Regions from separate parts of the Homo sapiens genome. Here regions 2, 3, 4, 5, 6 and 7 are each linked to region 1. Evidence: fine-mapped expression QTL. A gene starts in region 1. Each other region holds a variant in brackets. All regions are shown on one strand. Distances are from middle to middle.

Region 1 (4,164 bases):
CCGGCCCAGTTCCGGGAGGACCTCCCGACGGCGCGGGAGAAGGCTGTAAGGGCTCTTGGCCCCCGACGCGGCCTGGGTCTCGGGGGACGCATGAACCCGCCACCTCTGGCCGGCTTCCTTTTAGTGCCCCAAATAGCAGCGCTTAGCCCGTTGCTTCCCCCGACTCTTGTTTTTCAAAGTGTTCACAGGGTCGCGAGAGCGAGCGACGCGGGGGCGGCGAGGCTGCAAGGCTGCACAGGAACAGACGACAAGAAATAGGGCTTTCTTCTGCGTGGTTCTTTTCCGGTCCCTGTCTGAGTCGCCCGACCCCGCGGGGAGCGCGGAGCATTGCGGCGTGCGGCGGGCTTCGGGCTCTCAGCCCGCGCAGCAAGTTGTGTTGCTTTTCCCCGGGTGCGACGCGGGACGGCCGCGAAGAGCAAAGTTCGTCCGCGGTAGGAACTTCGAGGCCCGGTTAGGACCGATCTCCGGCCTCCGAGTCTACTTAGCCGTGTCCACGCTCGTGCCTTTTCCCTCTTGCAGCGAAATAACTGGGCGGGGCCCGACGCGCGTCCTCCAGCGACTCCGGGAACCCAAGGCCTCCTTCACCTCGCTCAAAATTCACCCGAAAATGCGCTGAGACTTTGGCATGGGGCTGCGCTGTGTCCCACTGACGTTACAGAAGCGCTTATGAATTTAAAAACTGCTCCAGGCGGCCGGACGGCGGGACAACGCCTCCTCACTTGCTCCTCTACGGCAAGGCCCCTTCCTTCTCCCTGCCGGCTGCGGTGGTGTGTAGGGTGGTCCCTTTACAGAGTTTCCTTAATCCATCTAGCCTGACCTCACCTGCGGGATGTTCCATTTCCCGATCCACCTCCCACACCCCCGCTGCAGTTGTCTAGAAGCTGGGGCTGGGGAACTGAGGCGCGGGAGGAGCAGACAGGAGGGCCGGGGTTGGGGCGCCAGCCACGCGTTGGGAGAGCAGACCCGGGTGCAGACTCAGAGGACTGGAGAGGCGGCATGGAGTTTGGTCTCCTGGGAGGTAGAGTGAGGTGCTGCGGACTCCAGGGAGGAAAGGGATGGGTGGGGAGGCGGGAGGGGAGGAGGGACGGGGTATTTTGCGCTCCCGCACCGCGGCCCGAACTCAGCTGTTCTGCCTTCACTGGCCTCAGCCAGTCGAGGGAGCTCCTACGAGGTTATCTGCGAGCCCAGCAAATCTTGGGGGTCCTAGCCAAATGCAGTGCGCAACGTTCTCTCTCACTTGGAGGCCGCCATTCACCTCGTTTTTTTTTTTCCTAAAAGGATTTTTTTTTCTGAGTGCTTTTTTCATTTCCCTATTTTACCTGCTTTGCACATGCCTCCCGCCCTCACCCGGGAGGCGGCGAAGACGCCCACTGGGACCGCGCCTGGCCGTTTTCTGGGCGCGTCCTGCCCCCACGGCCTCTGTCTCTTAGGGCGACTGGGCGCGGAAGAAAAGCTGGAGAGCCCCTGCGGGGTGGCAGGAGGAGGGTGCCTGAGTCCCGCGAGAGGCCCGGGCGAGGAAGATGCGCAGCCTGCTGATCCGCGTCCCGCCCGGCGCCAGGGACCCTCAGAGGGAGGAGAGCTCAAAGACCTCGCCCCGCGCCTTCGCGAGGACCAACCCAGTCCCCGCGCCTGCCCCAGAGCGGCTTAGAAACTCAGGGCACAGTGAGAGCGCAGGGCGCCTCCCGAGGCTTCACACCGCCGGCCGGGCCAGCGGAGGCTGTGACCGGAGCGCCCCCTCTGTGCCGCGCACGCCGCGGCCGCCGCCGGGTTGGGGTAGGTGAGCGGGAGGCTAGGGTACACTTCGGGGTGGGGGATGGGCGCGCACATGGCCGCCAGCAGGCAGAGTTACTCCGGTAAACACGCCAGGGACGGCGGCGCGCGCGGGAGGCAACCCAGCGGGGCAACCCCCGCCTTTACCTGTCCGAGCCTGCACGCGCCGGCGGCCGCGGCGCCGAGGGGGGCGGAGCTTGCCAGCCCGCGCGCCGGGGCGGGACCTAGCGGGGGCGGGGTCCGCAGTGATTGGGCGTAGGAGCGGGGCCGCCAGCCAGAGCTGGGCTGCAGGGCCGCGCAGGTTTCACTTCGCTCCGCGCAGCCGCCTGGTCTGCAGTTTGTTGGAGCTCTGCGTCCAGCGCCGCTGCCGCTGCCGCCGCCGCCGCCGCCGCCGCCGCCGCCGCCGCCGCCGCCACTACCACCACTTGATTCTTGCAGCCACCCTGCGAACCCTGCCACACTGCGATCGCATCATCGCGGTATTCGGTTCGCTGCGTTCCCGCCGCCACCGCCTCGGCGCCCTTTCTTGGCCCTTGTTCCCCCAAATGTCTGACTCTGACTCTCGGACTGAGAAACGCAAGGTAAATACCTCCAAATCCCGGGGCGCGGGCCTGGCACCGAAGGAAGACTAGCGCTGGAGCCCGAACGGCACCACCTACTGCCCGCTTCCCGTGCACGTGCGAGCGGAGACGCTTGCATCGGCGCCGCTTGTCGCCGGCGGGAGGTGGGGATCCGTGTGGATCGGGTTCCCTCTCGGGCAGGTTCTCTTTAAAGAAAAGTCGTTCACGCGGAACCTGCAGGCTCTTGGCCGAAGTGCGGCTTGGGACGGGATGCTGCGCGCGGGCCTGGTGAAGGGTCGTAGGTCCGGGCAGGAGGAGAGGCAGCGCGTGCCTTTCGGCGCCGGCCCGGGAGCTGAGGACCTGCTCGTAGTATCGGGCTGTGCGCCCAGCTGGAAAGTCTCGCCGCCGGCTCCGGCGCCCTCAGAGTAGCGGCCGCGCAGTGTGAGGGTGTTTCGTGTCTTGGTTTTTTGGGGCGCGTGGGCCTGTTGCGGAGGATTTGCGGAACTGCGGTGGTGATTTAACTGACGAGACACGGCTTTTCCTTTTACTCATTCAGGCCAAGGTTTCGGGGCCACTGCTGCGTTCGCTTTCTCAAGCGTACCTGGGGCCCCTGCTTGCTCTGCAGGAGTCCTGCGGCCTGTGCCATCCGCACGATTCCCTGGCAGCGAGAAATCTAGGTCCTCCCCTGACCACCTGGACCGCGCAGGGGACTAGTCGCGGCCGGCAGAACCTGCTCGGTCCCTGGGCCGGGCTATCTTAGCGGCTCACGCATGCCCGAGCACACCCGACCCGGTTCGCGGTGCAGGCTGGCGGCGCCGTGCCCTCTGGGACCTGTTGCCCCAGGGTTGGCGCTGCTGGTGGAGGGCCCGACGGACGCCAGGGCGGAGGGTGTGAATTTACTCGATGGTCGCGGACGTGCGCGTCCGCGGCCAGGGGTGGCTCTTCGGCTTTGACTCGTGTCTGCGGCGCACCAGGAGAGAGAGGAAGTTGTTGGAGGAGAATAGTTGCCACAGCCAGGGCGGTGACGGCCGTTAGGGTCTGCCCCCGACGGGCCAAAACAAGGACAAGTGGCGAGGACTGGGCCTGGGGATGGCCCTGCGGGTCCGGGCGCGGCGCAAGTCCTGCTTTGTCTCCAGGTGACTGGCTGTCCAGGACGGCGGGAGCTGCTAAGGCTTGTGTCCGGAAGGAGCACAGGGATGGGCAGGGTGGCCGGGCCAGCCGGCCCTCAAATCCTCCGACGAAGCGGCAGCCGCCACGACCACGGCCAGAGCAGCGCTCGGAGGCGAGTTTGTCAACAATCGCCTCGCCTTTGGCGGCCTGACCCGTAGGCGCCGCCCCCACCGCGGCTGCCGATTGGCTGCGGCGCGGAGCGACCGCGCGCGGACCAATTGGGAACGCGGGCACCCGGCGCCAGCGGCGCGGGGAGGTCGGCGGTGCCGGCGGCGGCGGGCGCAGAGCGCGAGGGGAGGAGCGGGAGGAGGCGGAGGATGTTCCCGGCGGCTGCGGCCGGGGCAGCGCGGGCCAGAGGCGCGGCGTGCGGAGCCCTCGGCTGCCCGGCGGAGCGCGGCGGCGGGCTGGCGGGAAGGCGCGGGCTTTGCGCTGCGCCGGGGACTCTGAACCCGAGTCCCGGGCTTTGTCTCCTGCGCTGCTTTCGTGGTGACGGTCAGGGGGCGCCCGGTCGGCGAAGGGCGCGGGCCGGACGCCGCGGGGCTTGGTCCCTGGCCCGGACGCTGCGCTCTGAAGGGAAGGCGCGGACGTGAGTTTCGGTGTGATTGCCTTCTGAGGGGAGGGTCTGTGGGATGAAGGCGGCGCGGCGCGCACCGGTGTCGCCTAG
Region 2 (4,164 bases), 250 kb after region 1:
GGTGTGGGGGTGATGTCTCATTTTAGTTTTTATTTGCTTTTCTCTAATCATTAGTGATGCCAGTCATCTTTTCACATGCTTTTTGGCCATTTATTAATATATATCATCTTTGTAGAAATATCTATCTAAGTCCTTTGCCCATTTTCTAATCAGGTTGTTGTTGCTGAGTTATAGGAGTTCTTTATCTTCCCACTCCCTGGACCTTTTTTTTTTGTTTGCAACTGAAAAACTAAAGGCTCAAAGAGGCAGACGGCCTGCTGAAGCCTTTGCCCAGGGGCTGCTTAGCAGCAGCAGCAGGGAAAAACTAACCCTGGCTGACCCTAGCTTAGGTAGCAACTACAGAGCTCTCAGCCCATTCTCCCAGCCACACAGCCTCAGAGCAAATACTGTCCATCAAATGCACACTCTGTGTTCACAGCCTCATGTGCCAAATTGCTGTTGGAAAACCAATGGCAAACACTGGTTGCAGAGAACACAGAAGCATGTAATATCCACTTTAATGGTGGTTCCACTTTCATATTTTTTCTCCCCTCTAAGGAAAGGGAGAGAGAAAAACCTGTTCGTGGAAAAAATATATTTAAATGGATCAGTGCCAGGGAACCATTGGCACATCTGTTCTTAACAGGTTTCAGCTGAAACTACTGAAAATATACATAGATCTGTTTATGTGGAACCAGTTAAATATGATAAGATTACAACTTGGAGGGTAACTATGGATTTGGTGGTGGAAAAAAAAAATCCCCTCCACACTTGGTCTCCGCAAGCACTCATAACATTTTACCACAGATGTGTTGAGGGAATCAGATTTGCTGCAAATGGAAAAGACCTGAATTATTTGAGATTAGCTACAAACAAACTCAAGATGTCCCCACCGCCTTTCTGCAGCACATAATTCCTGCCTCGTCTCTAATCTGGGCCCAGTCCTTTGTTATCAGAGAGGAGACTGCAGCCAGGGAATCACCCATTTCTGAGTGAGTCTGTCTTCACTCCTCCAACTAGCCATTTAGGAGGAAGACAGTGTGCACACTGCTTACACAGAGAATGCACAGTTGTCTTCCTTAAAGTTTTCAGCATCCCAAAGGACTCCATGTTCTCTTGAGGTTGTGCAGGCAGCAAGGAGGGAGTGTTGGCTGAGGGGCTCCCAATGGAGGCCCTGTGCTCCTTCTGGAGTCTTTTTCTATGTAGTACTCACAACCACCCTATGAGGTTGCATTGTCACCCCCCTTACAGAGATGAGCAAATTGAGGCTCCAGGCTCTAGGATAATTTGTCCAGGGCCATGCCGATAATTAGATGCTCTAAAGGAAGAAAGATGTTTCCTCCCATCTAAATATGCCTTAACAGGAGCATCACTTGAGCCCAGGAGTTCAAGGCTGCAGTGAGTTATGATTGTGCCACTGCACTCCAGCCTGGGCAACAGAGCAAGACCCTTCCTATATTAACAATAAATAAATAATACGTGAATAAGCCTTGAGGCAAGGTCATGACTCAAATATCCACAGAGTCTAGCAGGAGCAGGAGTGAGGGGCCCTAGGCAGCTAATATGGGGCCATAGCAGACTGATACTGGGGAAAATGCAGACCTTGTGGCCCAGATCTTCTGGTTTTTGTA[T/C]AGAGAATGAGAAATCACTAGATTTTTGTATGATGGCTCAAATATTGAAAACAAACACAAAGCACAGCCCCTGCTATAGTTTGCAATCTCCACTGTGGGTCCTTTGCTGCCCCCAGCGGTGGGAGGAAGGGGCTGCACTGGCTTTGAACCCCCTCTTGTTGGGGACTGAGCATCTGACCATCAGGATCCTTGCCTCCTGGTGCAGGAGGTGTCTGTCACAGGCCACAGGCACCGCAGCTCAGCACCCTCATCCCAGTGTCCCTTCTAAACTTCATTAGACTCCTCAACTCTGGCACACTGTGAAATGTATATTCATCTATAAACATTTCTCTAATAATTTATCTCAAAAAAGTGACATCAGTCTCTAAAATGCACCACGGGACACAGGAATGGCAGTCTCATGGCCTCAAAAACAATCAGCCAAAATTGACATCTGACAACACCTCCTCCCGCACCCCCAGGGGCCGGGCTGTGATCCGTAAGGTTTTCATTCTTGCTGGACCCCACGCTGTGAAAATGCACCTATTTTTATTCATCAAAATCATTTTTTTAAAATAAGCAGCCCAGCGGAAAACAATTGTGAATGGCAGCTTCATTACATTTGGAGTTTTGGAACAAAGACAATATTGCTCACACTCTATGACCTGTTCAATGATACTGAAGTTTAATTAAAAAAATGTTAACGTACTAAACTGACAACAAGGAAGGTGCAACATTAGGGTTTCTTTGAAAAATCAGGAAAGCAAAATATGCTTGACGGATTGTCTCAGTTATCAATTCAATGTGATTTAACATTTGTCTTTTGGTTTTTATTTGAAACTTTCAGTTTTGAACTAGTAGGGCAATAATCCAAGCTGTATGGAACCAAAGTGGGGAGGTTGGTGGGACTCGGAGGGAAAGTTGAATAGAGGGACCCCTATTGGCCCTTTAGAGGGCTCAAATATCATCCTGGGCAAAGTTGTTTCTTAAAGGTCCCACTAGAATTGGCTACTGTTCCGGCTCCCCTAGAAAAGCCCTTGAAAGGGTATTTTCTGAGCAAGAAACATGGTGATGCTTCCACCACGTGACTGGTTTAAGACAGTCATTCTAGTAGACCTGATAAGTGAAAGCCAATTATTTTGAAGCAATAGAGTAAGTGGTGTGTGGGCAGCCACTGCATATTTAACCCAGCCTGAGATTCATTAATTATGAAAGACTTTTCTTCTGAGATGATGCGATAATAGAATACGAAAATTTAAGTGCTGAAAGTATGTCAATGCATTGATTTTAAAGAAGGTGATCTAAAGCAGCAAAAAGTGATCCACATGCTCTCTGGATAGTCTCTAGGACATGTCATGTCAGTTCATGTCTTAAAGCCCCATAAAAGAGAGCCATTTTCCCCCAACCACAGAGCCCTGAGATCTGGCCAGAGGTCCCATGGTGGAAGACTCGCTCCCACTGTAGCCTGTGAAAGAGGAAAGCCACTGGCCCTCATCTTGGGGACCCGTGAAGACCCACCTCCCACTTGGAGCAAGTGAGGGAACTGCAGGGTATTGGGTGAGGCCTGCTATACTTCCTACAGGCTTTGGGTCTTGGAGGTAATGGTACCAGCCTCATAGTGTGGGAGTTGGAGCGTCTGCTTCCACCCTGAGAAAATAGGTATGGGAGCAGGTCACAAGCTAGGACAGTGCCTCGACCTCCCTGAGGAAAAGACCAGAATGTATTCAGAGTCCAGGGTCCAAACCAGGGTTCTGGAGTGGCAAATTTAAGGCCTTGAGGCTGGACTGGACCAGTGCAGAGTCAGGGAGCCACAGCTGTGACCTCAGGGAGGTGCTTGTCATGCACAGGGAGGAGGCTGCATTCTGTTCTCAGAGTGACAGGAAGCCACTGTTGAGTTCCAAGGGGGAGAAGGACATGGCTCAATGTGCCTTTCCCAAAGATCTTGCCGGGTCTCTCTGGAGTAGGAGTCTGGACAGGTAAGAGTCTGGACTGTGGGCCAAGTGGGAGACATGGGATGGGAGACAACAGGATGGACTCTTGAGACATTTCACAGATAGAGTCAGCAAGGCACAGGGAGGCACTGGGTGAGGAAGGTGAGGGCAGGGTCCATGGATAAATTTCACAGATAGAGCCAGCAAGGCACAGGGGGGCACTGGGTGAGGGAGGTGAGGGCAGGGTCCATGGATAAGGCACCTAAAACCCCTGGTTTCCCATTTAGAGAAAGAATCCAATAATTCCTACCCGTCTGAGCTGTTGTGAGGACAGAGAATGGTGCATGCCATGAGTGGCTCACAACAGGGCTCCAAGGAGTGAGGGTCTGGCTGTGCTCCTGTTACCTCCTTTTGTCATCACAAGCACAGATGATGGACATCTGTCTCTAGCTATGTTACTTCTGACCCCCCAGCCCCAGCAAAGCAGGAAGTGGGGCCTGGGTGGAGAGGGGTGACAAGGCGGGTTTGAATTGATCTTTCTGAGAAATCATGTGCAACTTCACAAGCAAAACAGTTACGCAATAAACTTCCAGGTTCTTAAAACCATGCTGAGGGTTACAAAAAGAAAGTTAACGGGATGCTGA
Region 3 (4,164 bases), 310 kb after region 1:
GAAGCCTGACGTTTCTCTCAAATGTCAGTCTGCCCACACTGACTCTACAGCAATCTGGAGAGGTATGAGAAGCAGCAAGACAAGCGTGGCTGAGTTATGAGAGAGTCAAGCCCAACACACATTTAAACATGTCAGATGAGCTGTGTGGACGTGCCAGGGTTCCCTCAAACACTATTCGATATCCTTTCAATCAGCGTTTAAAGATAGCTAATAAGCAAACAATTCTGTTTTCTTTAGTTTTGCTTTTAATGAAGGACAAGGGATTAAGACACACAGAGACTGGCCAGACAAATGGGAAACCGACCAGACCAGCCCATGACCAAAATATCACAGGCAGACCACCCGCAAATGCAGAGGCCTCAGAGTCCACAGTGGGCAGTTGGAACCAGGCCCCAGGGAATCTTTCAGCTGCATTCCGGCTGTGATCGGCGGGCAACAGGTAGAGGTGCTGGAGGGGGATGAGTCGTGATTTTCAGTGTCTGTCATATTCGATCAAGTGTGTCATAGAGCTTCCTGTTTCATCTCCCAGTTATTCTGAAACAAAAACATGCATGAAAAACACAGGTCACTGCCAACCACACTGACAGTCGCTCTAGTACATGGAAACTGAAAAGGGAAAGACATATCATGAATGCCACAATAAGCCAGAGAATCAAATTTATCAGCATCTATTCAAATATTGGCAAGCAACAAACATTGCTGGCGGCAATGGTGGTGCGGGACATGGGGTGTCCACATAAACAGAATTCAGAAGAGACTGAAAAGGCAGATGTTCCCAAAAGCCTGCTGCTTTGTTTGGGGCCAGCCTGTGTGTTTATTGAAAAGTTGATTCAGTTCTGACTTCCTGGTCAGGGTCTGACTCCTGATGGGCCCTGAGGCTCTTCCCCTACATGCCCCTGTTGACTTGGATGAAGAGTCACACAAGGACTTACAGGATGGCACAGGTGTTCGCCCAGGTGGTGCCCTGCACTCCCCTCTCCAAAGGCCCAAAGAGACCCAATGAGAGATCCCCGTGGAATTCCAGCCCAATGAGGTCCTGAGACTCCCCGGGAGACATGGCCTCCCAGGTGCATCAAATAATCACAATACACCTGGGCCTAGCAGCCTCGGTGAGGTAGAGGGAAGGGTGGATAAGAAGTGGGGCCCCTGACCAAGCAAAGGCCCTGAGGACAGCACAGGACTGACAGCAGCTCCAGAAAGACTGTGATTCTGTTAATAACTGCTCTGCCGCTTGAGACCAGCATGGTCTGGCTCACTGTTTGCAGAAAATCATTCTCAGTCTCCCAAACAAGTGAAAGGATACTTCCAAAGACAGACAGAGGGACGGTAGAATCAGAAATACAGATGGCACCATCTTCCCAAAGTCCATACTGTAGCCCCACAAAACCAACTTCATGCTTAAATCTGCTGCTCAGACACACTTTGGGGAGAAAGCAGTTTTTCCAGGAGTGAGCTGGAGACAGCACTTCCATGGGAGGGAGGTCAAATCCAAGACTACCCGCTATTTCCAGCCATATTCACTATGGATGAAGAAGGGATGGCTCTACCCATGACCGTGCAAAGCTTCCTTGGGAACCCTGCTGTCCCTTCCACATGCAACCTGTCCAAGATGCAACCCTCAGTTCACCATGAAAACCCACTGGCCCTGCCGCTCCCCATTTCCTTTGGTTAATATTAGGCACAAATTTTTCTGTAAAATGAGATGAAGGCATGTGATTTTGGAAAAGCTTCATCCTTCCTCTTGAGATTCATTCACAAGATACAGTAGCACACAAAATACCCAGAGAAGTTAAGAAATAAGAAAGCTGTTTAAATTATTGTGCACTTCCCAAACATATATAGGGCATAACATTTTTTGCACACTGGCCTTTGCTGGCAGGGCTCTGCTGAGTGGTGTTAGGAAATGTGGCCGAAGGCAGGCTGCCCAGCCTGCAGGGCCTGGCGGAGCTCTCCTCCTCCTAGGGTCTCTTGCAGTGCTGCAGGCCAGGGAATAAAGCTTCTCCTGACCCCGTAGCCCTGGCTGCCAGGACATGTGGTGATTATGACAGTCTCTATTTATCTTTTGAAACTCTGTATTGTTTCCCCCCACCCCCAGTATCTTTCCCAATGTCTTGTACAAGTGAGTTAACGGATCCATATAAACTCCTACAGTCTTATCTGTTTTTTCCTTAAAGGCCTCATTGGCTAGTGACAGTGAAATACCGAGCTTCCTGAGCCTTGG[C/T]GAACCTGGCCCCATGATTCCTACACATTCTGGGAAGAACACTGCCCAGATGAATCTGTTGGGAAAGCCAGCTTCCCGTTTTGAGTCCTATGAGCTAGCATTTTCTAATGTGGCTTAAAGTCCAGCATCTGGGCCCAGGATTTCATACGCAGTGTCTTCCTGGGTGGGCAAAGAGAAACAGGAACTAAGTAATGCATCAGTGGCCTGTAGGGGTGGAAGGGGAAACCTGGTTTCTTTAGTTTCATCACTGAAATAGAGAGGTGGTTTACCAACCCGTGCCCCTCACCAGTTACCCCCACTTTTGAGTGCAATGAAAAACCAAAATGTAATAGCCCAGGAGGGCTACAGTATGGAACACCCAACCATGTGGACCTTGGGCCAAAGTCACAGAGTGAGAGGTGGCCGGCCCTTACGGATCATCCAACCAACCCTTCACCTTGCAGGTGAAGAAAGCAAGGCTCACCGAAAAAGGAAGTTGGCAACCTTCCCAAGGTCACTCTGGATGGGACACAGCTGGGACCAGGACCTGGGTCTCTCCTACCTCTCCTACCTTTGGCTTCTGGCCAAAGCTGAGAAGACCCTGAATTCCAGTTCTCCACTGAAAGGCCTTGTCTGGGAAGTTTTGCATGGATGAATCAACTCCATGTTGGCCTGGCTGTCTAGTTATCACTGAATAAACCCACGACAGTTCATCTGAGAACTAAAAGTTTTGCCCCTAATTCAGGGCCGATCACACACATGGCTTCCTAGATGCCAGTGTACACTGGGAGTGGGTGGAGACCACCAGCGCCACTCCGGTGTTGAGGCAACCCTGAAGAAGCATCTAGTCACAGACAGGGCCACTCTTACTCTTTGGCTTGGCTGACCTGCTGTTCCTGCAGGTGTCTAATATTGATGAGCCGCCAGGTAGGTCTCCCCACTGTGGGTACAAAACCTCACTTCCCCCCAGATCTGAGAGATGGCCTCAGGGTCACACACATCACCCTGAATAGAAGCCCTCATCAGGGGCCCCAAATGCAGCTCAGGCAACCTTCAGGAAGCTCCCCAGCTAGCTCCCAAATCATGCTCTTTCTCTTCCCGATAACAGACAGAAGGCTGCTGGCATGGTAAACTGACAAAGGGAGAGAAGCAGTGGCACAGATGCATACCCCCAGTCCCACCCCCAAGGCAGGCTGTTTTGCCCCTGAAGTTGAACCATCCAAGCCTCTACTTTCTGTGCAGTAAGTCTCAAGGTAGGAGGAAGTGAAGACCACAAGCTTCGATTTGCTGTGACATCCAAGGAACTGCCAGTACCTCACTGCTGAGAGCCCAAGCCAGAGCTTCCAGCCAGCCTCATGCAAAAACACACTTGAGCTTCCTCTGCCCCATTGGCAGCACCGAGGTCTTCCTCAATGCATAGAAAAGGGACGAGTGAGGAACTCACACCCTGTCCATTCTTGACTCACACCAGATTCTAACAGTATAGGAAGCCAACTTTTTGAGATTTCAAAAGAATTGCCAAGGAGGATGGAGCCTGCTCAGTAACTACCAAACTGTTCAGCTCTCAAGAGACCACTGTTTTTATTTTTCAGAATATTAAAACCTAGACCGCACACTCAGGAAATGTATATTGCTTATCACAGACTAATTTTAGGGAGATATGAGATGGGTTCTTTGTATAAATCAGACTCGTGTGCTGCTAGAGCTGTCAGGGCAGGGGAGCCAGGCAGCAGCACTTGAGTCCCCCTGCCCTTGTCTCTGACAGAGGCTCCCGCGTCTAGAGCTTCAGCCACGTATCTCTGAGCAGACTTAGCACCTTTTCAAGGGGACCCCCGCTGAGAAGCAGTTTCTGCAAAGTGCTCCACACGTCATTACAGACCTACACTTGGTCAGGAAGATTCTGTGTCTTTGAGTGGGGACTTTCAATACCCTCGTCAGCAGAGTGTGACAGTGCCAGGACACAC
Region 4 (4,000 bases), 40 kb after region 1:
GGGTTGTTGTGGGGACTGAAAAGCATGGGCTAGGTTATTTCATTTAGTGGTGGCCATGGCAATTCTTCCATCCCCAAGCTTGGGCACACAAAGTCCAAAGGCCTGGAGTGCCCTAGGCAGCTTTTCAAAGGTTCGACTCCTCTCACTGTTGGAGAGTGAAGCTGAATCCAAAGCTGCATTCTATAGTTGTCTGCTGTTCAACCTGACCAGTTCCCTGGGGCCAGGGCCTCTATTGTTTTCCAAGCATCTGCTTCCCTGGACTGAGCAAGAGAGTGGTGTTCTGTGATTATTTTGGCATTAGAATGTCATTAAATTCCCTGACACTTAATTGGTCGTCCCAAGTGTAAATTGAAGATGCTTCTGCCCTGCACTTAATGTTCCTCGCTGCAGTGGCAGCTCCAGCCCCTGGCAAGGCAGCAGGAACCCCACGCTAGGGCATTCCTGTGGTACAGCTCCTCCCAGGTTGCCACCCAGATGAGCTTGTGCCATCTGGTGTCATGGGGACATGTGAAGAACTATTTAGGAATTCCCTGTTGAATGCTCGACACCGTCTCAAAGGGCATTGTTCATATCTTCAGAGAAAGACTGCTTAAGTCTATGCTGAGGAACTTGTAGACACATAATCCTATGCCTTTACACTTAGAGGGCACAGTCTGTGGGGGAGCAATCCTGCAACTTGGCATAATCTTTCCTTCTGGTTTATGATAAATACTTATCCACTACTGAGATTATCTTTACTGAACTGCTGGCCCCTTCTGCCTGTTGGCCTTGCTGCCTCTGCCCAGCTTCTCTCTCCACCTGCACTGCCCATTCTCCTCTTGTCCTTCCAAGAAATTCTCCTCTTCCTTTGGGGCTTGATGTGGGGATTCACCCTGGTGCCTTCCTGCCCTGGCTCCCCCACTTCCTCTCTGGCCAGTGGTTTTTTTCCCTCTCATTTTATTTGCCTCTGTATTGTCCTTACTTTATTATCTTGTTTACTGTTTTGTGCTGGCGACACAGCTATTACCATCAGACCTAGTGGGTACACAGACACGTGCCTTGAAGTCAGGCCCCCCACCTGATGCTGGTCAGCAACAGGGCCACTGGAGCCCCTTACCCTGAGAGGGGCAGGGGCTGTCAGGAACTGGTTCCTGGAGGGACACACAAGGTTGTGAATGTTGAAGGAGTCATCTTCTGGACACATGGGATGGCCACAAAAGGCAGTTACCTCCAGGTAACCCAGTCCTCATATAGCTCTTGATTTAGGCTATGGAGATTACAGTACCCAACTGGGTGGGGCCCTCCTCTTTGTGCACTTGTGATTGTGTGTATGTGTGTCTGCGTAGAGAAAGTGAGAGAGGAGAGAACTGTAGTATATGGTCACTTCAGTTGTAACTTACTAGCAAATTTGGTCTTTAAAAATAATCTCCTTCACCCAAATGAGTTGTTATACCTTTCTAAAGTATTTTTGCAATTTAGACTAAAACAGAGTTACCCAACTCTGTAAGAAGGATTGTTTTCACTTAAAGAGTGACAGACTGAGAGCATCAGTGAAAGTGTGTATTAGTCAGCTAGGGCTGCTGTGCAGAGTTCCAGAGACTGGGTGGCTCACACAACAGGAATTTATTTTTCTTAGTTCTGGAGGC[T/C]GGAAGTCTGTGATCATGGTGCAGACTTAGCCTCCAGACCTGTAGATGCTGTCATCCCCTGTGTCTTCACGTGGTCTCCCTCCGTGGGTTTCTGTGTCCTGATTGTCTCTTACCAGAACACCGTGGATTAGAGCCCACCCCACAGTGACCTCATTTTAACTTAATCACCTTATTGATGACCCTGTCTCCACTTACAGTCACAGCCTGAGGTCCGGGGGGTTAGGACTGCAACAGATGAATTGAGGGGACACAGTGTACAGTTCAGCCCATAAAGAGGAAGATACCCAGAAGTTTCAGGAGGGAGTGGAGCATCTTCCCTGATTGTATTTATTTTAATAGTTTTTTAAAAAACGCTTGTAATCAGGAAAGACAGTCTGTCTTTTTTATATTACCCAGTTTGGGAGTGGCAGAACTTAAATGCACTTTTGATTCACAGATGCCTCTTCCACCTGATTAAGAACCACTGTAGCAGACGCAGACTTATTGGACACTAGGCGGGAGGCCAGCTCTGCAGACAGCAGGTCTCAGGAAGACGGTCAAGGCATGGCTGCTGATGATCCGCTTATGGGTGTGTTTATTGTCTTAGCCCATGTTAGATGCGAGGAACCACTCACACTGCAAATGACAGCTCCTGGCTCAGTCTTAGTGTCATACTTGCCTTTAACTGGCAACTCCCCTGCAATACAGGGATTGTCATCTTTAGTCCTGACTTTCCAATTCCATCTTGGATGTGCTACCCTGGCCAGAAGCCACTGGGTGTGCCCTTACTTTGACCTTTCACCAGTAAATTCCATCTTAGGGGGCTTTCTCTAATTGCTTCAGACTCCCTCCTGACCCTTTATACCACCCCAAAACCAAAGGCCCTGGTTTAGGAGCTGAATTGTAGCAGCCGTTCCTCAGTATCTAGATCGCAGGGAGATTTCACTGGAGCTGGCTGAAGCTGTTGGCGCTTTGAGCAGCGTTGAGCCATCAGTCCTAGTTCTGCGTCTTTGCCCCACTGCAGCTTTTGGCCACTTGCCCCAGTTTAGTGTCACCAGGCCCCGACTATAAGCCACAGTAATTTTTATGGCTGCAGGTATTAGAGGGCAGCCAGTCTACAGAGGTAGGGGCTGCCCATCCTCCAGCTGTCTTTTGCAATACGGGCATACACTTCGAGCCAACAGCAGCTCCAGCCGGCCGTGCCAGCTGTCAAATGCTTTCTGGGCTGGCACGGCTCTTTGAATCCGTGGTAATGGCTTCCTCTGTTGAATGTCGTCCAAAAGCAATTGCTTGTCAGCTTAAAAGCGTGTGCCATGTTGTCATGCCCGCCGTCTGAGAGGGCAGGCATCCCCGCACACTTGCAGACTGGGATGCTGTAGCATCTTCTCATGAGTCAGGGATTGGGTGTAACTTTTGCCAAAATTTCCTGCATTTTCCCCACCCTCTCCAACATGTCTTTGAATACCCCATATCCTTTACATTTGAGATGAAAGTGGAACTCTAAAAACCTTGGAAAGATTCTCTTGTGAGGTGACTTCTACTTAAGCTTGGTCACAGCCTCCTGCTGTCCTCAAAGAGTGGGCAGGAGATTTCTTCCCTTGGACGCTGCCAGTGCTGGAATATGAAACTTACCAAGTGTCAGCAGTTGGGGTCTGTCCTTCACGTTGACCCAGCCCCCTCATTGGTGTCCTGATGATTGTGGACACCCAGTCAGCCCCATTTTCTGGCCACACCAAGCATGGCAATGACACCAGGTTGGCACAAAACAACTCTGCCTGGATTGATTACTTAGCCCATCATAGCGTACACTTTCTTCATTTTAGTAAGTTGTGGTTTTATTTTGAATAAGTCTCTTTCAACCTATTAATATTAGTCTACACTAAAATTAACCTTCCCCTAAATTATTCTCACACAGAGGCAGCAAAGTAATTTTGAAAGTTAAATCAAAACAAAGCAATCTTGTGTGTAAAACAGATAAAAATCACAGACTGTGGTTACAGAGTGCCTCTACAGGAATCGCTTACATAAAGCTGATTTCCTCCAATCTTGTTATGGAAGGAAAAGGGGAAATGCCCTGGCCTTATCACAATCCCATTCTGTCAAACAAGCGCGGCAGAGCTTGTGTAAACAGTGGAGCTGCAGCTGCGGCTGGTGTCTGTGGGGGCCATTCGGGGTCTGAGGGGACAGTTGTCTCAGCCTGATGCATGGCAGGTGGTTCCCGCGACGGTGTGTTGGAGGTATCCCCCACCCAATGAGAAGGGGGTTTGTGGAGAGACAGTCATGTAGCCCGGTCTCGTGTGGATTAGTCATTAAGAAATGTCCAGGGCAGATTTCAGACTTGAACAGTGAACCAGGTTGTAGCTCATGGCGTCGAGGTTGAGGTGTTGTGTTGCCGC
Region 5 (4,164 bases), 290 kb after region 1:
ACACCACACATATCCTCCCAGGGCAGCCAGGACATCCCACGGGGAGGCAAAGAGGGTCCTGTCCTGGGCTTCCTCCACACTCAGACCACTTCCTCACCTGCCCACCAAGCAGCAGTGTGCATGGTTAATGGAAATTGGCATCTCTTCTATCCATGTGAGGAACCACCAAGACCTACTAGCTAGGTTTACGATCCAGGTTCTAGATACCAGGGGTTAGGAGGGAAGGACCCCCAAGACCTACTAGCTAGGTCTACAATCCAGGTTGTAGATACTATGAGTTAGGAGGGAAGGCCCAGGAGTGCCATTCCCCAGGTTCAAATTCCAGCTCCAAGACTCACCCTGTGTGTGCCCTGGCATAACTCAAGGTGCCCTCAGCTTCCCCATCCTTAAATGGCAAGGTTTCGTACTTGCCTTTAGAGCTGCTTGTGGGGATTAAATGATACCTAGTTGCCAAGGGCTTTGCACCGGCCCTAGTATGCGGTAGTGCCAGTTACAGAGGAGGAAACAGAGGCTCAGGGAGATTGAGCACCTCGACTAAAGAGAGGAGTGGAATTTCAGTCCAGGAGGTCAGGCTGTCTTTCCGAGAGCCGACACCCACCAGCCTTTGGTGGGCTTGAGAACACGTGGGGCCTGCCATCCACGCTGCTGGCATGCATCAGGTGGTGTCAGGTGGGTCCTCGCACAGTGAATCCTGAGCAGAGGGCAGGGGGACGAGGGGGCGGCTGGAGCCCAGTTCGCTTTTGCGAAGCACTTCCTGAACTGCACATTCGGTTACCACAAAATGAGTCAAGGTCCCTTTTAAGTGGCTTGCTGAGCTTCCCTCTGATCTGGCACTGTCTCCCTGGGATGGCCGGCAGCAGGCTTCCCTGACGAGCTGTCAGGCCTGGCACCGGAGCCCCTTCCCTGGGCACCAGCTCTGCACGAGCACCCCTTCACTCTTCCTCATGACAATTCCATGAGGCAGGGGCTGGTCTTGTTTCCACTTTAAGTGGGGAAACTGAGGCTCAGAGAGGTTGGGTGAGTTGCCTTGGGTCACACAGCTTAGTCAGGTTCAGAGCTGCAACCTGAACTCTGGCCTGTCTGGTTCTTAGCTGTTTTGCTTGCTCTTCTGCCTGGCTCATGGCAGTGAGGAGACCCACGCTCACCTTCGCTGCCTGGGTCAAGTAGCTGCCTGGGACCTCTCTATGGACCCATTTGCAAATCAAGGATGGGGAAGTGAGGTTGTGGGGATGAACCATTAGAAGCAACTTCTCATGTCCCAGAAGGAAACAGGGGACTGTGCTTTCCAGGATGAAAATACAAGGGCCCCCTGATGGACTAGTGTCCTCCCTATGGATTGAGTCCCTCTAAGAAATGGGTTGCTCTCCCCACAAACAGGCTTAGCTTAAAGACCTTGTGTTTCCTGGGCAAGAGAGGCACCCACAAAAGGCCTTCACTAAAACCTGGCTTCAGGCCCAGGGCCCTGGTCCGGATGCAGAGGAGGCCTCAGCTGGGAAGGGTCCGTCCTCCTGGGGCTTGGGGGGTGGGGGTCATGCTCTCCTGGAAATGGGCTGCCCCAAGACCCACATGAGTCTTACCCCAGTGTCTCCTTTAGAGTCCTGGAGCAAGAAGGAGGGATTCCCAGTGATATCTGGTGAGTAAGAGA[GA/G]AAAGGAAGCGGGTACATCCAGAAACACAAGCACAGTCTGTGAACACCGTCAGACAAGAGGGCCTGAATGGCGCCTGTGGTGATTGGGTCTTTTTGTTTGCTTTTGTTTTTGTCATTGTTGTTTTGAGTCAGTTTAGGAGTTTTTTTTAGTAATGACTACTGGGAAACTCAGAGGGAAACACATACACACACACACACACACACACACACAAACACATGAAAGAACAACAATGCGGGGTGATGACCACGGCTCAACCAAACGACATTTTCATCATCCTGACACATCTTGTTGAAACGGAAACAGATCTGGGCCTAAGGTCCTCACATCATTTTTCCTGATTCTCTTTGTCTGTTTTTAAAAGTAACGTTCAATTAGAGAAATAACGCATAGCCCTCCTTGTAAAATACTACAACGTGATAAATAAGGCTCAAGAACTCCTTGGCTGCTGTCTGGACCGAGGGTCCCTCCCCAAGCCAGCCACTGTGCTCTATTTTCTGTGGGTCTTTGCAGTCTGGGTCGAACTTTTTAAGCATTTCATTGCTACTACTTAGCTTTTGAGAGTGGGTTCAGCGCTCGTGACTGAAGCATATGCTTAGAGAACAGTGTCCCTGAAGTCAAATCTCAAACTTTGCCTCAATGCCTCTTGCCTCAGAAGGGCCCAGAAAGGTCTGAATTGCCCTGAGAGTTTTCCTCCAGACAATAGCTCAGCCTTCTGTGCCCAGCCATGTTTGCAAAACTTTCTCACACACCCCTCAGCTAGTCCTTCACAGTCTAAGCCTAGGCTGCTGGGATACACATTTCTATTTTGCAGATAATGAACAGAAGTCTCCACAGAGTTAAGAGTCTTATACAAAACTACCTACCCTGGCTGGTTTTTCCACTATAGCAGGGACTCCTTTCCTCCAAGTCCCGCCTCCACACCGAGGTCTCAGGTGGCGAGGGCCTTCCAGGCATGAATGTCCCACACCCGTGCTCCTGTCAGAGTCCTCACACTCCCTGACCAAGCTGCCTAAGTTCCAGGAAGCTCTAGGCCTGTGTTCTCCCAGGGAGGGGGGCTTCCCATCTAGTCCCTCAAACCAGGAGCCCGGGGGTATTTGTGAGGTTCTGGGAGACTCTAGGAGACCATAAATACCAGACCTTTAAGCAAGCATGGTCAGCAGCTGGTGATAAAATTGAAGGAAAGAGACACAGCAGCCTGCATTTCAACCCTGCCCTCTCCACACCCTCCAAACTGAGTACCTGGGGTTGCAGGGAGGCAGGGCCACCAAAGTCCCCAGTGGGACCGCAGTGTGGCTCTGAGGACGGAGCTGGATATTGTAAGGTTGGCAGCAACTCAGGCCAGTACTCTCAAGTGGGAACAGTTGGGAAAACAGGTAGAAAGAAAAGACAGCATGAGAATCTCTAGGACGGGAGCCAGCGCAGTCTTCCCAAAGAATATCGTGCAGACATGCTCTGCACACAAACCTTCCCTTCCTAGAGATCCAGAATATCTAGGAAGATTCATGTTCATCAGCATTATGAAAGCCCTGAGAAGTCCTGCAGTCATGGAATAATATAATAATAACGATAATAATAGCCCAAGGTTTTCTAAACTTACTAGTCCAGAGAACTCTTTTCTAGCGAAATGCCTATTGCTGTCTCCCCATGGAGCACATGTTGTGACTGCTGGCCTGGCCCATCTGGGGTAAGGAGCGATGTTGGTCACAGTGCTTCTTAAGCAGCTGTGAACTTCCACAGCCTCACTGCAATGGCCCTGGCCCCCAATCTTACTTCTGATAGGTTAGACAGATGCAATGTCTAAAACCCTCAATTACTGATAACACTTTTAGTGATGACTTAGATCTCAAACTATGGGGTCTCAAACTATGGCCCGTAGGCCAAATCTGGCCCTCTGCCTGTTTTTAAAAATAAAGTTGTATTAAAACACACCTTGGGCCATTCCTCTATGTATTACCGGTGGCTGCTTCATGCTACAATGGCAGAGTTGAGCCGTTGTGATAGAGACCATGCAGCCCAGCAAAGCCTAAAATGTTTACTCTCTGGCCTTTAGAAAAAATGTTTGCTGAACCCTGGCTTAAACAGAAAATCAAAACTCACCTGAAGGACTGGTTCTGTAAAGTCTCAATAGCATGGGAAATTTAGATTTAAAATCTCTGCAATTTGGACCAATCCACGTTCTGCCGTGGTTGTGTTGTTGATGTAACGGGCCCAGACTACAGCTCAAGTGTAGACAAGGGTGTGTGTGTGTGTGTGTGTGTGTGTGTGTGTGTGTGTTCATGGAGAGACTGGGAATAGGAACAGGATGGGGAGGAAAGAGAAATGCTTTATGGCTTAGGAATATTGAATTCGGAGCCAGAGCAGGGGAAGTTGTGCCACCCTATAAGCCTCAGCTTTGGTTGTATGAGAAACCTGGAGATAATGTAGCTGATGGCACAGGGTTGTTGTGGGCAGAAAATGAGCTCCTGTGAGCAGAGCACCTCTGCTGTCTCTAGGAGACTCAGCAAGTCCTGGGGACTC
Region 6 (4,000 bases), 22 kb after region 1:
AAGGCAGCTTAAGTGGATGGAATCTGATTTTCTCTTAGGCACGTGCATCTGCGAAGGTGTCTGAGGTGAGCCAAGCTCGATAACCTGATTTGTTGAGTGAGTTACTTTTCTGTGGGATGTGTGGTGGAGAAAAGACTAGAAGTGTATTTTCTTGTTGATTTGTCTGTTATTTGGTCCCTTGAGAAAGGCATTAACCTGAAGTAGTCTATAGTGAATTCTGAATAGATACAATGTTAGTATATATGTGAGTTTACACCTCATTTTTGCTGATACTTGATCATAAATTCTACTAAATTAGTCAAAACAACAACTTAAGAAAAAGTTTGATACATAGCAGGAGTGCAATATTTGTTGATTTAAAGAGACTCTCATTAGCGTTTAATGCAATATACGAGTGCCACCAGTTCCTTCTCTTTTCACTTGGATTTCACCAGGGTGCTCATTTGAAGCTTAGAACTCTGTCCTCGGCAAAGAAAGCCTGGCATACACTGTACAAGGTGTTGACTCATCTTTGTGTTCCTCTGCTCCTCTAGTGTGAGGTGTGGAGTAGGAGGTTCCAGCAGGTGACCCAGCCCAGCCTTGGTCCTCCCATAGGCCTATTAACAACCCTGGGGCAAATGCCTTAGCCTGCCTGGAAATCTCAGTGTTAGGGCCATGGCCCTTCCGCAGTGGTCATAGCAGTGTAGGGAGTTGGTGCCTATGGGGAACTGGCCTACATTGAGTTAGAACAATCCACACGTATGTTTATTGCGGCATTATTCACAATAGCAAAGACTTGGAACCAACCCAAATGTCCAACAATGATAGACTGGATTAAGAAAATGTGGCACATATACACCATGGAATACTATGCAGCCATAAAAAATGATGAGTTCATGTCCTTTGTAGGGACATGGATGAAATTGGAAATCATCATTCTCAGTAAACTATTGCAAGAACAAAAAACCAAACACTGCATATTCTCACTCATAGGTGGGAATTGAACAATGAGATCACATGGACACAGGAAGGGGAATATCACACTCTGGGGACTGTTGTGGGGTGGGGGGAGGGGGGAGGGAGAGCATTGGGAGATATACCTAATGCTAGATGACGAGTTAGTGGGTGCAGCACACCAGCATGGCACATGTATACCTATGTAACTAACCTGCACATTGTGCACATGTACCCTAAAACTTAAAGTATATAAAAAATAATAATAATAATAATCCCAATTCTTGTGAGTTTTTTTTTTTTTTTGAGACGGAGTTTCGCTCTTGTCACCCAGGCTGGAGTGCAATGGTGCCATCTGAGCTCACTGCAATCTCCGCCTCCCAGGTTCACGCGATTCTCCTGCCTCAGCCTCCTGAGTAGCTGGGATTACAAGCAGGTGCCACCATGCCTGGTGAATTTTTGTATTTTTTTAGTAGAGACAGGTTTTCACCATGTTGGCCAGGCTGGTCTTGAACTCCTGACCTCAAGTGATGTGCCCACCTCAGCCTCCCAAAGTGCTAGGATTACAGGCGTGAGCCACTGCACCCGACCAGAACAATCCCAATTCTATCTGTATCACACAGTGTGTTTCTCATCTAGGAT[A/G]CAGACTCACTGGGCAGCAGCCGTGTCTGCCCTGGAAAGTGGGGGCATCAGGGAGGAGGAGGAATGTGTGAACCTAAACACATGGAAGACCTTCAAAAGCACCAGAACACAGTCTTTCAGCACAGAATTCTTTACATCCTTAACTTGCACTTGTGCTAATGAAGACTCTACCTCCTGTTCTTTTCCTTCTGTGACAAAACAAGTTATCTGTCTGGGAAGACATGGCACAATTTATTTATACAACATTTTTATGGCTTGCAGATGACTCCGCTGGATCCTCCCTCAGAATTGCCCTTCATAGGGAAGTTCAGTGGCCACTCAAGTGGTTAGCAAAATCAAGGTGAAAAGTTTTTCTTTTTATTCAAAATGGGATAAAAAGAAGCAGCTGCCTTTTGTGACTTTTAAGTGAGAAGCTTTCATTATGTCTTAGCCCTACAGTGTGTTATCAATAATCATATCTGTGTTAAATTGTACTTCACTTTGTATATCACCATTGTAAGTTTTAACCGTATACATTATAGGCTTTTTCCATTTTTATTTTAAAAACTGTTTAAGGTGTAGCTTTTTAAGGATTCTGTTTTTGCTCTTATTTTTTACCTGTGTCTTGGTCTTTCTTATCATGGAGGTGAAAACAGTAATACTGAAGACCTTAATGTGAGTTTAGGAGAAAAGATGTTAATCACCAGTTTCCTGCTACTGGTTTTAAATTTCATAGAGGAAGCCACACTTATTTTGTCATCAGAAATTCTTATATTTTTTGTTTAAATTCTCATCTCCCTCCCCTCTTGCCCAGATCTGGTTTTTTGGCTAGAAACAACTTACAGTAACTTCAAATTAAGCATTTTAATTCTAAGGAATGGTCTTAAGTGAACCAATGTATATAGAGTTTTATCTTTACTTTTAAAAGGTCTCTAAAGCATTTTTCTTCTTATGGGGAAATAAATTGGGTAGTTTACCTCGTCAGTAGAAAAAATATAGGGATTTGTGTCTTTGCACTAAAGTAATTTCAGGGTTGGTCTTCTTTTAGCTGTCCTTAGTTTTGGGATTATTTTTGTTTTTCAGAATAAAATGGCACAGGTCAGATACTTTTAATCCCCTGAAAGTAATCTAAAGCTATAGAAATGGAGCTGTGGCTGTCGCAGAGACTTACTAGGATGAAGGTTGGTGTAGAAAAACTAAGGAGTAGTAGCAGTATTCAGTGTCCCGTGTCTTTCCCCAGAAGAACACTGGCAGAACACCAGGGGCAGAACACTGTCACACACTATTCAGAGCAGCGATTTCAGGAGCACACCAAGGCGGGCCAGGTGGTCAAGGGGCTTCCCAGGGGATGTCATACAAGGCACATGGAAAGAACTGGTTTAGGACCAGGTTTGGCACAGGTTCACTGACAAAAAGTGGGGTGATGATTGAGAGGGATCATAGATTTCCTTTATAGTCCCAGGGGCAGAATCAAGATTGAAGTGGGGCTTAGAAGGGAACATTTCAATTCCCTACGAGGAATAGCATCGTAGCACTCAGTGTTCTTCAGCGAGGACAGCAGTGCCTTAGGAAATGTGCATCTGTCCCAGGAAGCGGGCACACAGGCTGGGAGTCTTAGAGGGCTCCTGCTCAGGTCTCCCACATGGTGCAAGATGCTGGGCTTCTGTCGTGACTCAGCTGGGGATGTCCTTGAGTATAGGGATCACAGCTCAGTCTGGGTTTGCTCCTGGCTTGTCCCCAGCTGCTAGTAAATATGTTAATATGTGTGTCGGGGACAGCTCTGGTGACATGGATAATTAGTTTTTCTGATGTTGAATGAGAAATGAGTAAAAAGGCATAACACATTAATCTTAATGTCTTTAGACTTGTATTTTTATTATAAGGGACAGATAATAGTGAATGAGGGAAAAAATCTCATGAACACTAGTTTCCAGACTTCTGTCCAACTTCACAGCCTTGGTTTACTGGCAGTTTCCAAATGGTCAGGCTGGAAATTGATGAAAGCTGTTTCTTTTGACCATGGCTCCATAAAGGCAATGGGCAGTGCACGTTGAAAGAGTAAGTATGAAAACACTGGCCTCATCTCATAAACTTTATTATTGATAGTATTTTATCCTAGCAGCTGTTTTTGAAGCACTGTCTTGAATTCATGTGACTGCCCAGGCTTTTGACACAAATGTGTTCCAGGGAGACAGATTGAGGAATCTTTGAGTACTAATGCTGTCATCGTATTTCTCATAGCTTTTGTTTTCATCCAGTGGCTCAGCGGAATTGATTGGGATTGCCAAAAAATAAAATGATACAAGTGAGAAATAGACCTGGAGGGAGGTGTGTGTGTGTGTTGTTGGTTACTTGCTTATTTTATTTCTGAGAACCGTCAGAGTTGAGGATTTCAAACATGATTCTGATAGCATTTACCGCAAACGCTGATGGCAGTTGCTCTCCT
Region 7 (4,164 bases), 340 kb after region 1:
GCTGAAGAGCTGAAAAAACCTAGTGGCCAAGTCAGGCCACGGAGTTCGTTGAGCCTCTGCTGCCCATGGGCCTCCCCGTTCCTGGCATCCTGGGTCAATGGATGGATTCTGACTGTGGAGGCCCCCAGTTCAGCCTCTTTTCATACCCCTGGGGGTTATCTGCAGTGCTGCAGCCCCTTGGTGGGAGCCTCCTTCTTGCACTGGGGACACCCTGGTCCCCCTAAAATCCCACATACCCTGTGGAACTCCAGGGGGGGGATTCTGAATTCCTTAGACACCAGCTCGTTCACTCTCATTTTACAGGTGAAGGGAGCTACTCTCTGTCCAAGCAGATCAGGGCCTCCATGGGCTTGCCTCCCAGGCAGAATTCCAATTTCCTGGTCCATCAGAGGTCCTCACCTGCTCCTCTAGGAGAGAACCCTGATATAAAAGGGAGGAAAGATTCCCCTCCATGTTTCCAGTGCTCATTGGTTATCACTAGCCACAGTCAAGCCTTCTTATGACTCCCAGTCCCATCTGACTTGCTCAGAGCTCTGGAGCCTAACATCCCAGTCTTCCTGAAACACTGCTTAAGCCATGGGATTTTCCTGCTCGAGGACCCACAGAGCTCCCTACTGGCTCCAACACAGAGTTGACATTCTTTGCCCAGGCTGAGAAAGACCTCTGTGGTTTGCTCCTACCCTAAGTATGCAACATTTCCCTCTTCTCATGAATCTCTTTGTGCTTTTATTCAACAAAAATATGTTGAGCACTGGATTATTAGTTTGCTTGAGCTACTATAACAAAGTATTAGAGACTGACAACAGAAATGTATTGTCTCACAGCTCTGATGGCTGGAAGTCTGAGACCAAGTTGTTGGCAGGGTGGTTTCTTCTGAGGCCTCCCTCTCTCCTTGGCTTGTAGATGACCACCTACTTGCTATGTTGTCACGTGGGTCTTCCCTCTGTGTATGTCTATATCCTAATCTCCTTTTTTTTTCTTTTTCTTTTATTATACTTTAAGTTCTAGGGTACATGTGCACAATGTGCAGGTTTGTTACATATGTATACGTGTGCCATGTTGGTGTGCTCTTAATCTCCTTTTATAAGGACACCAGTCATATTGAATTAGAGGCCACCCATATGACCTCATTTTACCTTAATTACCTCTTCAGAGACCCTTTCTCCAAATACGGTCACATTCCAAGGTACTGGAGTTGGGGTGGCACCATACAAATTTGGGATGGGACACAATTCAGCCCTTAACAAGTCCCAATATGATGCCAGGGAATGGGGAAGGGAGGAGAAAAAGGGACATAGAAGGGGACAGAGATGGATAAAACATGGCCTCTGCCCTCAGCAGATGAAACTCTACTGTTCACACAGGAGGACGGCGTGATTTTCTCCTTGCCCACCCCAGCCCCAGCTCCTGCCTCTGTTGGGCAGCCTCTGATGCTTCACTTCCTCCTCTATCTAATCAGTCTTTCAAGGCACAGCCTCATTCCCTTTCTCAGGAGCACCCCCCTACTGGCTTACACTCCCTGAGTCCCTCCTGGACTTCCCTCAAGCGTATCACCTCCTCCCTGTGCTATCCTGACCACCCTGTGAACTTCTCCATGGAGCAGCTACCTGGATGTCTAGTGCAAGGCTGGGCATGGTAGACATCAAGCCAATATTTCCTTCTCATGGGATAAAACATGTTTCTCCTTTCTGCTTTCTGTCTGATAAAAGCCAGCAAACGGCACTGGGGGTGTCTGGTTCCTCCACCACTTGTCTGCGTCTTTCAGATAAATATTACCTATTTCATCGTGTTCTGAAATGCAAAACCTTTCTAGTATCAGTAAGTGAAATCCCCAATCAGCATACCATGATGAAATATTCTTCTAAGTCTCATATTTTTACTCACTTTACGCCCAGAGTTA[T/C]GTGTGTGAGAGGTGACATTTTACTGTGTGGGACAGGAATGCCATCCTCACTGATGTTAACCATGTCACACTGGAATGACATCTCAGAAGACGAGAAATAACCAGGGGCCTTTAAAACTTAATGCATCTTGAGGCCGGGCACAGTGGCTCACGCCTGTAATCCCAGCACTTTGGGAGACCGAGGTGGGTGGATCACTTGAGGCCAGGAGTTCAAGACCAGACTGACCGATATGGTAAAACCCCATCTCTACTAAAAATACAAAAATTAGCCAGGCGTGGTGGTACACGCCTGTAGTCCCAGCTATTCGGGAGGCTGAGGCACGAGAATCGCTTGAACCCGAGAGGCGGAGGTTGCAGTGAGCTGAGATTGCACCACTGCACTCCAGCCTGGGCAACCGAGCAAGACTCTTATCTCAAAAAAAAAAAAAAAAAACTTAACGTATCTTGAAATGTAAACAAATTATCTTGTTTTACACTTTTCTTTTACTGTCATCAGCAATAAATGCCACCTGATATGTGTATTCAACACTGTGCCCCAGCCCTTTCCTGCTGAGCTAAACATCAGCTCTTAACTTTGAACATGCCCTAGACTCACACAGACAGACCCTCAGAGGTCTTCTCTGTGCTCCCAGAGTGCTTTGTTCAGAGTCTGGTTTAGTGGCATGGTAATTAAGAGTGTGCACATTGGGAGCTAACTGTTTGACTTTAAGTCTACCTGCTGTGTGACTTTGGACAAGTTACATAACCTCTCTGGGCCTCATTTTTCCTCAAAGCCACCAAAAAAGTCACTGAAGGGCATTGGGGGCATCTGGTTCCCAATGTAAGGATGAAATAAGATAATTCAGATAATTAACCTGGCCCAGAAGCTGGAACTTTTTGGCCCCCAGGAAACACGAGTGTTAATATTCACATTACCTTTCCCAACTATCTCCCCTTCCAAACTGTGAACTTCCCCAGGACAAGGGCACTATTCCTTAGGTGCCTGGGACATAATAATCACACAGCTAATGTTTGTGGGAAAAAAAAACACATGCAATGACTCAATTCTACTTTTAAAACTGGCTTTTCCTCCTTATTTTAAAATGTAACTTGCTCACCTTAGGGCCTTAAAAAAATATGTAACAAGAAGAGTAACACAGACCAATTAAAACTTTTAAGTTAACTAAATGAAACCCCCCAGCTCCTGTCTTTGGGCTTCATCCATAGGTTTTCAGGGCAAACACCCCACAAATGCCAAACAGATTTGCACATGTGCTAATTATCTACTTTTCACTGTTTCCCATAAAATAAATACTTTCAAATGCAAAGTTGACTGTGAAAAGTATATTAATTATAGAGAATGAAAAGCAGTACCATGATGTTCATCCTGAGGCCAAATGAACAATGATCAAAACTTCTAACTGAAAATTCCTGGAGAACACCTTCATCGGCAGCATATGCCATCTCCTTGCAGCTCTCCCAGCCAGCACTAAAGCCAGCCTCCAGGCTGTGAGGCTCACCTTAGCCTGAGTCACCATCCCTCACACTTCCTGAGAGTAGTTATGTTTTTATTATCCGGTAATTAAAGATAAAACATAGTATAAATTGAATTATGCATGTAAAAGCATTTGTATTATTTATATCACAAGAGTCCCAATATCATAGAATACATAAATGCTAGAGCCACTTGTGATTTTTGTTATTTACAAAGGCTGATAGGCAGGTGGATTTCAGCATCCCTGCCAACATGGTGGGATCTGAGGCTGCCAGGGTGGGAACCACTCATCAAGGAGAACATTCCCTGTGTCTACCAGCAAAGATCCAGGCCAACTGCTGGCTGAAGAGAGAGCAAAAAGAAACAGGCTATGACGGGCTTCTGCTCTTACAACCCTATAAGGAGTATATATTTTACACTGGAAAATCTGATCCTTAGAGCAAGCCAGTCCTGTATCAGCATATAGTCCTGGTATTGTCCAGAAAAAATAAATCATCTTGCTACTTAGAGACATTAGCTAGCCAAACGCAGTAGAATCTACAAGATCACATAGTATTCAAATTATTATTAACCAAAAATGCCTTGTAGTACTTTAGGGGTACAGAGCAAGCAGAGAAAAGGTGGTGGTCCATGAAGTGCCCTTTGTAACATTCAGAGCTGAGCTGTCCCCTGTAACTGGGCACCATCCCTGCACTGCTCCTTGGGTGTTGGGCTCTGAAACACTCCAGCTGACTCAGAAAATGATTCTCGGTGGGGGATGGAAATCAGGAGCTCTTTATTTTTGATTTTT

What was found.
Region 2: its variant is fine-mapped to the expression of BCL2L11 in whole blood (TOPMed, PIP 0.92).
Region 3: its variant is fine-mapped to the expression of BCL2L11 in whole blood (TOPMed, PIP above 0.99).
Region 4: its variant is fine-mapped to the expression of BCL2L11 in cerebellum (GTEx, PIP above 0.99).
Region 5: its variant is fine-mapped to the expression of BCL2L11 in whole blood (TOPMed, PIP above 0.99).
Region 6: its variant is fine-mapped to the expression of BCL2L11 in whole blood (TOPMed, PIP above 0.99).
Region 7: its variant is fine-mapped to the expression of BCL2L11 in whole blood (TOPMed, PIP 0.98).

The regions. Positions count from the first base shown.
Region 1 is chr2:111,118,838-111,123,001 of GRCh38, forward strand. BCL2L11 (BCL2 like 11) reads left to right here and starts at 2,077. Exons shown (of 4, transcript NM_138621.5): 1 at 2,077-2,351. RefSeq lists enhancers at 1,282-1,361, 2,512-2,631 and silencers at 1,642-2,181, 2,515-2,809, 3,602-4,161.
Region 2 is chr2:111,371,516-111,375,679 of GRCh38, forward strand. All of the region lies in intron 1 of MIR4435-2HG (MIR4435-2 host gene), which reads right to left. Among named protein-coding and RNA genes, the nearest start is that of MIR4435-2, 53 kb to the left of the region's middle. The variant T/C (reference allele first, on the strand shown) is at 1,611.
Region 3 is chr2:111,429,087-111,433,250 of GRCh38, forward strand. The region is part of intron 1 of MIR4435-2HG (MIR4435-2 host gene); the gene reads right to left. Among named protein-coding and RNA genes, the nearest start is that of SOCAR, 60 kb to the right of the region's middle. The variant C/T (reference allele first, on the strand shown) is at 2,222.
Region 4 is chr2:111,159,358-111,163,357 of GRCh38, forward strand. The region is part of intron 3 of BCL2L11 (BCL2 like 11); the gene reads left to right. Among named protein-coding and RNA genes, the nearest start is that of BCL2L11, 40 kb to the left of the region's middle. The variant T/C (reference allele first, on the strand shown) is at 1,626.
Region 5 is chr2:111,411,549-111,415,712 of GRCh38, forward strand. The region is part of intron 1 of MIR4435-2HG (MIR4435-2 host gene); the gene reads right to left. Among named protein-coding and RNA genes, the nearest start is that of SOCAR, 78 kb to the right of the region's middle. The variant GA/G (reference allele first, on the strand shown) is at 1,646.
Region 6 is chr2:111,140,477-111,144,476 of GRCh38, forward strand. The region is part of intron 2 of BCL2L11 (BCL2 like 11); the gene reads left to right. Among named protein-coding and RNA genes, the nearest start is that of BCL2L11, 22 kb to the left of the region's middle. The variant A/G (reference allele first, on the strand shown) is at 1,576.
Region 7 is chr2:111,459,362-111,463,525 of GRCh38, forward strand. The region is part of intron 1 of MIR4435-2HG (MIR4435-2 host gene); the gene reads right to left. Among named protein-coding and RNA genes, the nearest start is that of SOCAR, 30 kb to the right of the region's middle. The variant T/C (reference allele first, on the strand shown) is at 1,901.